Homo sapiens: one gene and its partner. The protein of the gene in region 2 interacts with the protein of the main gene of each other region in a biochemical or structural test. Each region holds a gene or a part of one and is shown on either strand. Other genes may lie near its edges.

Evidence for each region. Proteins that work in one complex are often made in the same cells at the same time.
Region 1: the proteins of AEBP2 (region 2) and EED form a complex in vitro, tested with the Homo sapiens proteins (one study listed by BioGRID).

The regions. Positions count from the first base shown.
Region 1 is NC_000011.10:86,275,735-86,279,446, forward strand, and holds the end of EED (polycomb protein EED), read left to right. Parts: intron 1-1,245; coding exon 1,246-1,404; coding exon of another isoform or gene 1,405-1,434; exon of another isoform or gene 1,435-2,037; coding exon of another isoform or gene 2,038-2,085; exon of another isoform or gene 2,086-2,183; coding exon 2,184-2,257; coding exon of another isoform or gene 2,258-2,261; exon of another isoform or gene 2,262-2,664; coding exon 2,665-2,791; 3' UTR 2,792-3,076; downstream 3,077-3,712. UniProt on the Homo sapiens protein: Polycomb group (PcG) protein. Component of the PRC2/EED-EZH2 complex, which methylates 'Lys-9' and 'Lys-27' of histone H3, leading to transcriptional repression of the affected target gene.
Region 2 is NC_000012.12:19,491,430-19,495,183, forward strand, and holds part of AEBP2 (zinc finger protein AEBP2), read left to right. Parts: intron 1-2,370; coding exon 2,371-2,557; intron 2,558-3,754. UniProt on the Homo sapiens protein: Acts as an accessory subunit for the core Polycomb repressive complex 2 (PRC2), which mediates histone H3K27 (H3K27me3) trimethylation on chromatin leading to transcriptional repression of the affected target gene.

The DNA of each region.
Region 1 (3,712 bases), on a different chromosome or scaffold from region 2:
ATGAGTCTTTTGAGAAAACTCCACAGACTATTGATCCAATTTTGCATTTAGCCAAGAGTCATCACACTGGGTGGTTTCTAAGGTCCTTTACAGTTAAAAACTTGAATAATAGATGTCATATAGCACTAGGATTTAAAAAGTCTAAATAAAAAAGGTAGAGAAGAAAAATGTGTTGTCTCCTCCCTAATCTTCAAGTGGCCATACTATTAAATTATTTAAATGCCTGTGAACCCCACAGGGCTGCCACCTGTCACTATATTATGTAGGCTGTCCAGTAAAACTCTAGGGGCACTGTTCACTTACATGAGGATTTCTGAATCCTGGTGCTATTTAGTTTAGGCCAGATAATTCTTTTTTTTGTAGGGGGTTTCCTGTGCATTATAAGATATTTAGTAGCATCTTTGGCCTCTACCCATTAGAGCACAGACACATTGTCAAATGTCCCTTCGTGGGCAAACCACTGACCTAGACAGTAATATGAATAGTGCCCACAGTTTTGCAATTTTTTCTCATTGTATTCTTTACCACTTACTGCTTAGGTATGTGCATACAAATTTGATTTTATAGGATAGGAAAAGTATAAGTTTGAAGCCTATTTCAATCCTATCCCCATATGAGTGTCTTGATGTTAAACAACTGCTTTACTTGCCTTCGATTGCCCTATTTATAAACTGAATTCTAAGGCTATTTATGTGAGTTCATCAACTTTCCTAAGATACCTGTTGAGTACCTACTGTGTGGCACAGATACTGGATGAAGGAATAATAGTTAATAAGGTAAAGGAAACCACCTGTGATTAGAAGCGAAATGGGAGACTGCATGGGGAAAGATGAAACTAGTGAAGTAAGCAAGAGCCAGATTAATGCCGGATTCTGAAAAGCCATGTATTCTAATTCTGTGTGTTTGTAATTGACCTGTGCTATAAAACACTTAAAGTCTCTGGGTGTCAGAGTATCTAGAGCTGAACTTGGTTTAACTTGAAAGAGAAATGTTGACTTCCAAAATGAATATTTCAGACAATGTGATTCTTTTGTATTATCGAATTCTGTTGATAATCAGATTTCTTGTCCTTAAGTATGGTCATTGACTGTAAATATAAATGAATGTACATCACTGTACTTGATAGATGGATTAACCAGGTTCTAAGAGCTGTGAATTCCAAAACAATAGAAAAGCCTTGTTTTTACTTTGTAAGATTCAGTTCCTCATTAACATTTCTTTTTCTCATTTCTCTCTCTGTTTTAGTCTTGTGAAAATGCCATTGTGTGCTGGAAACCTGGCAAGATGGAAGATGATATAGATAAAATTAAACCCAGTGAATCTAATGTGACTATTCTTGGGCGATTTGATTACAGCCAGTGTGACATTTGGTACATGAGGTTTTCTATGGATTTCTGGCAAAAGGTATCAACATACTTTTACATTTTGAAATGATCTGACTTATGAAAGACCATTGTAATTCTAGCTTTTTCTGTTGTGTCCATGTTCTTTTTCCTTTACAAATCTACCCTGATGTTTTGTATTGATTACTTTGCCCTTTGATGTCATTCATCAAATACTTTGGTGTTATTCATTCTACTTTTGTGGCTCTGCATATGATCTGCAGTGCTTACTTTAAATTAAGTTGGCAGTTAGGTATCAATGGTGGAAATTAGGTGTTTATGTTCCATAACATAAACATTATCATAACATTACTAAGACTTAATGTTTTAGTAATTAGATTGTCAGTCTACCTATGTAACTGTTTCCTAGAGAAAAATCAGGATAGAAGACAGATAAAATACTAGTTACCTAAAAATTTAAATAAATCTATTGTTAGGATTTTCTGGTAACAAATTACTTGGGTATTTATTTCTGTAAGAAAAGTTTGGAAGGCTTTCCACAGCATTTGCTGTATTTCTTGAAGGCAGAAGAAAAAGTAAGTACCATGCTAACAATGTAAATTTGTAAGGCCCTTCATAAATTTGCACAATGCCTTCTTACTTGCTCAAGACACTTGTGATGTATTAATTGCTCTTATTCATATTTACGAATCAGGAGTATAAGACCCAAAGAAATAGCCAAGAGCACAGAGGCTGGAACTGAGCTTTTTCTGAAACAAGAAAGCTGTCTGAGGATTCCTCCAATGCTTTAGAACCTGGTAATTTTATTAATTTGATGTTTTTAAAAATATGTTTATACAGATGCTTGCATTGGGCAATCAAGTTGGCAAACTTTATGTTTGGGATTTAGAAGTAGAAGATCCTCATAAAGCCAAGTAAGTATTTAGAAATTTCTGTTCAAAATTTCAGGCTTTTTCTCCACACTTGTATGCCAATGTAGAGAAGATCATTTATATTTGCAGTGCCATCCTTAAGTCATTTTTAACATTTACTGTTTTCAGAGTTAAAGTTATTCTTTTTTATTCCAATAATTTTTGTTTTTCCTAAGTACCTTGGTGACAAGTCATTTCTTGTTTTTATACAAATTATGTAGTGCTTGTTGAACTTAAAATATATCTAAATTTTATAAAATTTGAGACTGAGCTCTTAGTGAAGTATATTCTGGTTTTAAGTGCTTTTCGTATGACTTGGAACATCTGCTTATTTTCTAATCCGCTGTTTTAGGGTAGACACTGACAACGTTATGTGTGGTCTTTAACCTGTTGTCATGTTTTTTCCCTAGATGTACAACACTGACTCATCATAAATGTGGTGCTGCTATTCGACAAACCAGTTTTAGCAGGGATAGCAGCATTCTTATAGCTGTTTGTGATGATGCCAGTATTTGGCGCTGGGATCGACTTCGATAAAATACTTTTGCCTAATCAAAATTAGAGTGTGTTTGTTGTCTGTGTAAAATAGAATTAATGTATCTTGCTAGTAAGGGCACGTAGAGCATTTAGAGTTGTCTTTCAGCATTCAATCAGGCTGAGCTGAATGTAGTGATGTTTACATTGTTTACATTCTTTGTACTGTCTTCCTGCTCAGACTCTACTGCTTTTAATAAAAATTTATTTTTGTAAAGCTGTGTGTTTAGTTACTTTCATTGTGGTGAAAAAAAGTTAAAAGTAATAAAATTATGCCTTATCTTTTTATAATGGTTGTTTTTTGTAGTTCTCTTAACCAGAGAAAGTTTTGTAATACAGAGATTAAGTATAGGCTCTAGAACTAAAGTGAATTCAAATCTTGGCTCTCCTACTACGTGACCTTGGATAAACAACTTCTCAATGCTTGGTTCCTTGTGTATAAAACAGGGATAATAATACTTGCCTTGGGGTTATTGTGAGGATCAAATGATTCGTTATGTGTGAGACAGTTAGAACAGTATTTGACATATAATAAGCCCTAAATGTATTCTGTGTTTATAATTATTGGAGATTATAGTTCCTATGGTTTTATATTTTTTAATGATTTCTTATGTAATAGTTTCATAAGTAATATTTAAAATTCTACAGAGTTAGAACCTCTGATAATGTTTAACTGTAACCTTTCTTTATAGTTTAAAAAATATTACTGCCATTAGATTTGGAACTAGGCCATTGGTAACCTTAGAGGAGATATCATTAGGGCAAAGGAGGAGAGGATATAGAAGTTTAAATGCAGTGGGTTGGATCATGAAAGAGATGGCAAGTATGTCCATGTAGTGAGTTGTTGCCCCTTTTCTAGAAGGATGTTACTGGCTAAGAGGGATTAAGTAGATTGAGATCATAAGGTTGGGAATAGTTGGTTAT
Region 2 (3,754 bases):
ATACTGCTTTATATGTATGTTTTGCGGAACATATAGAAGCTCTTTTAGTGTAGTATCTATATCTTATTCATCTTTATCCTTCTAGCATATTATGTAATACTGGACATAGATAAGTATTTGAACTAAAGTCTTGAATCATTTCTACCTCTTTTTTAACTTAGTGTGCACCATAGAGTAAGTAAACATTTTTCATAGAGACGCTGAGGGCCATAAGGAGCCCCCAAAATATATTTTGTATGTCAAAATAGAGTAATTATTAATGGATACCATATAAGAAGAATGTGTGATTTTTTTTTTTATCAGCATCAGTAAACATATAACTGTTCTGCTAATATACTTAGTAATATCTATGATTTGCAAGATGCTTCTGGGAATATAAATATTCATAAATATACATCTCTGTGTTCAAAATGGAAAGTGTGAGTTGACATAGATATGCAGTGAAGTGTGAGGACAGCCTCAAGGGAGAATTAGCTCTTGTCCATTTGTGGCAGATTTAGAGAGACTTTATGAGGAAAGTTATGATTTTTACAAATAAAGGGCTGTGTTGTGATTTTAGCAGCTTACAATTGGTAGAGGTACCTCGATTGAAGGAAAGAGCCTGAGGCATGTGATTTTTTTAAATGCTATTATCTAGATGAACTTTTACAAGATGAACCGCCTGGGGATAACAAGATGAATATATTTGGTTTTTAACATGACACATTTATATGCTTAGAGTTTGGTAAGTCAAAAACTAAGTAAATTGGTTAAATGACTAATGGAAAAGTCATTATCCATCCAACTGTGGATATTTTCTGTTTTGTTTTGTTTTAATTACCACGATTCATTTGTTAGAAGACCTGCAAATTTTTTTCCCCCAAGATATAATTAGAAATCACACACTTATACCGCAGTTAATTTGTATATATTAATTCTGGTGCTACCTGAACATTCTGCATTCTTTGTTAAAATAGCACATCTGTCAGGTGACTCGGGTAGTTAACCTTTTGATTTCTTAACATTGCAAGTACAGAAGGCTAAAGAGGCAGTATTTAATGGATATTGTAGAGGGCGGCATATGACCAACACTGAGCATGTCTTTTCTAAGAGAGAGGCTAGATCTAATTGTTTAACAAATTAAAAAATTTATACAAACAAAATATAAATAAAAAAACAAAATAAAATAAAAAAAATTTATTTATTTTTAAAATATTAAATGTAGTCCGTATGGGTTTTCATTTGAAGTTTAAGAAATTTATAAGAAAGTAATTTACAAAGACAAGGCAGGTGTGGTGGTGCACACCTAGCTCTGTGGGGGGCCTAGGCAAATGGATGGTTTGAGCCCAGGAGTTCAGGACCAGCTTACCCAACATGGTGAAACCCCCTTTTGACAAAAAATGCAACAACAACAAAATATTAGTAGAGTGTGGTGGCGTGTGCCTATAGTACCACCACCTGGGAGGCTGAGGTGGGAGGATCACTTGAGCCTGGGAGGTTGAGGCTGCAGTGAGCCGAGATCATGCCACTGCACTTCAGCCTGGGTGATAGACTGAGACCCTGTCTCAAAAAAAACAAAACCCAAAATACAAAATACATTAAAAAGTCAATATTGAACTTTTCTCTCACCTGTTTTAATAGTGTGTAACACTAGGAAGTCTGCTGAAGGTTTTGAAGTAGCATGTAACGTAAAAAAAATACTTTAAAAATCCAGAAATACAGCTGGCTTACACCTGTAATCCCAGCACTTTGGGAGGCCAAAGCAGGCAGATCACATGAGGCCAGGAGTTCGAGACCAGCCTGGCCAATGTGGTGAAACCATAGCTCTACTAAAAATACAAAATTAGCCAGGCATGGTAGCACACACGTGTAATCCCAGCTACTCGGGAGGCTGAGGCACAAAAATCACTTGAACCCAGGAGGCAGAGGTTGCAGTGAGCGGAGATCACACCACTGCATCCCAGCCTGGGCAATAACAATACGCTGTCTCAAAAAAATAAAAATAAAATTCAGGAATCCAGTCATTGCCAGGATATCTAATTATTTGTTGCAAAAACAGCTTAGTGCTTCTGCTATAACAATGATTAATTCAAAACCAGATTTTTCTGGGAAGAAGATCCCATTATTTTTGTATTGCATATAGTGGAAATAGCAGTAAACTGGGAGGTCGTGAAACTTGTTGCATTTTCAAGCTTTGTCTAATGTATGTCATCTTACTTGGCAACTTACTTCGTAAAGTGAAAAGACTACTAGTCCCTTATGCTTCCTTTCTGGAATTAGTTCTATTGTACTACTTATTTACTTCCGAAAATACTAGATATTCACTCATTGATATTCTTCTCGTGCCCTACACAGCATGCCTGACGTTATTTCTGTTTTATTTTCTTTTAGTGTGTTGTTGGTGGCTGCAATGCCAGCTTTGCTTCTCAGGGAGGGCTAGCTCGTCATGTACCCACACACTTCAGTCAGCAGAACTCCTCAAAAGTTTCTAGCCAGCCAAAGGCCAAAGAAGAATCTCCTTCTAAAGCTGGAATGAACAAAAGGAGGAAATTAAAGAACAAAAGACGACGCTCATTACGTAAGTGTTACACTGAGAAAATCTGGTGTATTTCATGGTTTTAAAAGATATCTTAGACTTTTATGCAAATCCACTTTGAACTTCAACTCCTCTTCTATTAAAAGTAACAAACAGGTAGGATGCCTGTCTGTCAGTGAGAGTGAGAATTCAGTGGCACATGTTTGTAGTAGCTAAGGGAGTATATGTGGCCTTCAAATATAAACTGTATAAAATTAGATTTGGGGGCTACTCTGATTCTCTTCCAAAATAACATTTAAAATATAGTAACATTGGTATTTCTAGAAATATTTTAGAAAATTTGAACATGTTAAAAGTAAATATCAAGTGAAAGTTAAGTAATCTATCTACTCCAAAGTAGTGTGTGTACCTGAGCTGGGAGGTAGAGGCTGCAGTGAGCCGTGATCGCGCCACCACACTTGAACCTGGGAGACAGAGTGAGACCCTGTCTCAAAAAACCAACAACAAAAAAAACCACCACAAAGCAATGTGTGTGGATAACAAAGCAGTGTTGCTTTTTTTTTTTTTTTTTTTTTGAGATGGAGTCTCGCTCTGTCAGCCAGGCCGGAGTGCAATGGCGTGAGACAGGGTTTCACTGTGTTGGACGGGCTGGTCTCAAACTCCCGACCTCAGGTGATTGCCTGTCTCGGCCTCCCAAAATGCTGGGATTACAGGTGTGAGCCACCACACCCAGCCGATAGCAAAACAATTTGAATGTAATGGGTGTCATAGTACCTAGTCTATTGTAACATATGTATAATGTTTATGTGTTTACTTACCAAAATGTATCCTTGATGTTTAGGATAGAAAATAAGTAGATGATAAGGCTTGTAAATGCTGGGAGTAGGAACAGACTTTGCAACCTCAGAGTGTAGCTGGTCACTGCTTCTTTGTGTCAGCTGGTTAGTTTGTGGCTTTATTTTATTATTATTATTATTTTTTTGATGGGGTCTCACACTGTCGCCCAGGCTGGAGCGCAGTGGTGTGATCTCGGCTCACTGCAACCTCCGACTTCCGGGTTCAAGCAGTTCTCTGTCTCAGCCTTCCGAGCAGCTGGGATTACAGGCACCCGCCACCACGACTGGCTAATCATTATATTTTTAGTAGAGGTGGGGTTTCGCCATGTGGCCAGGCTGGTCTTGAACTCCTGACCTCTTGATCCACCCGCCTTGGCCTCCCAAAGTGCTGGGATTACAGGCA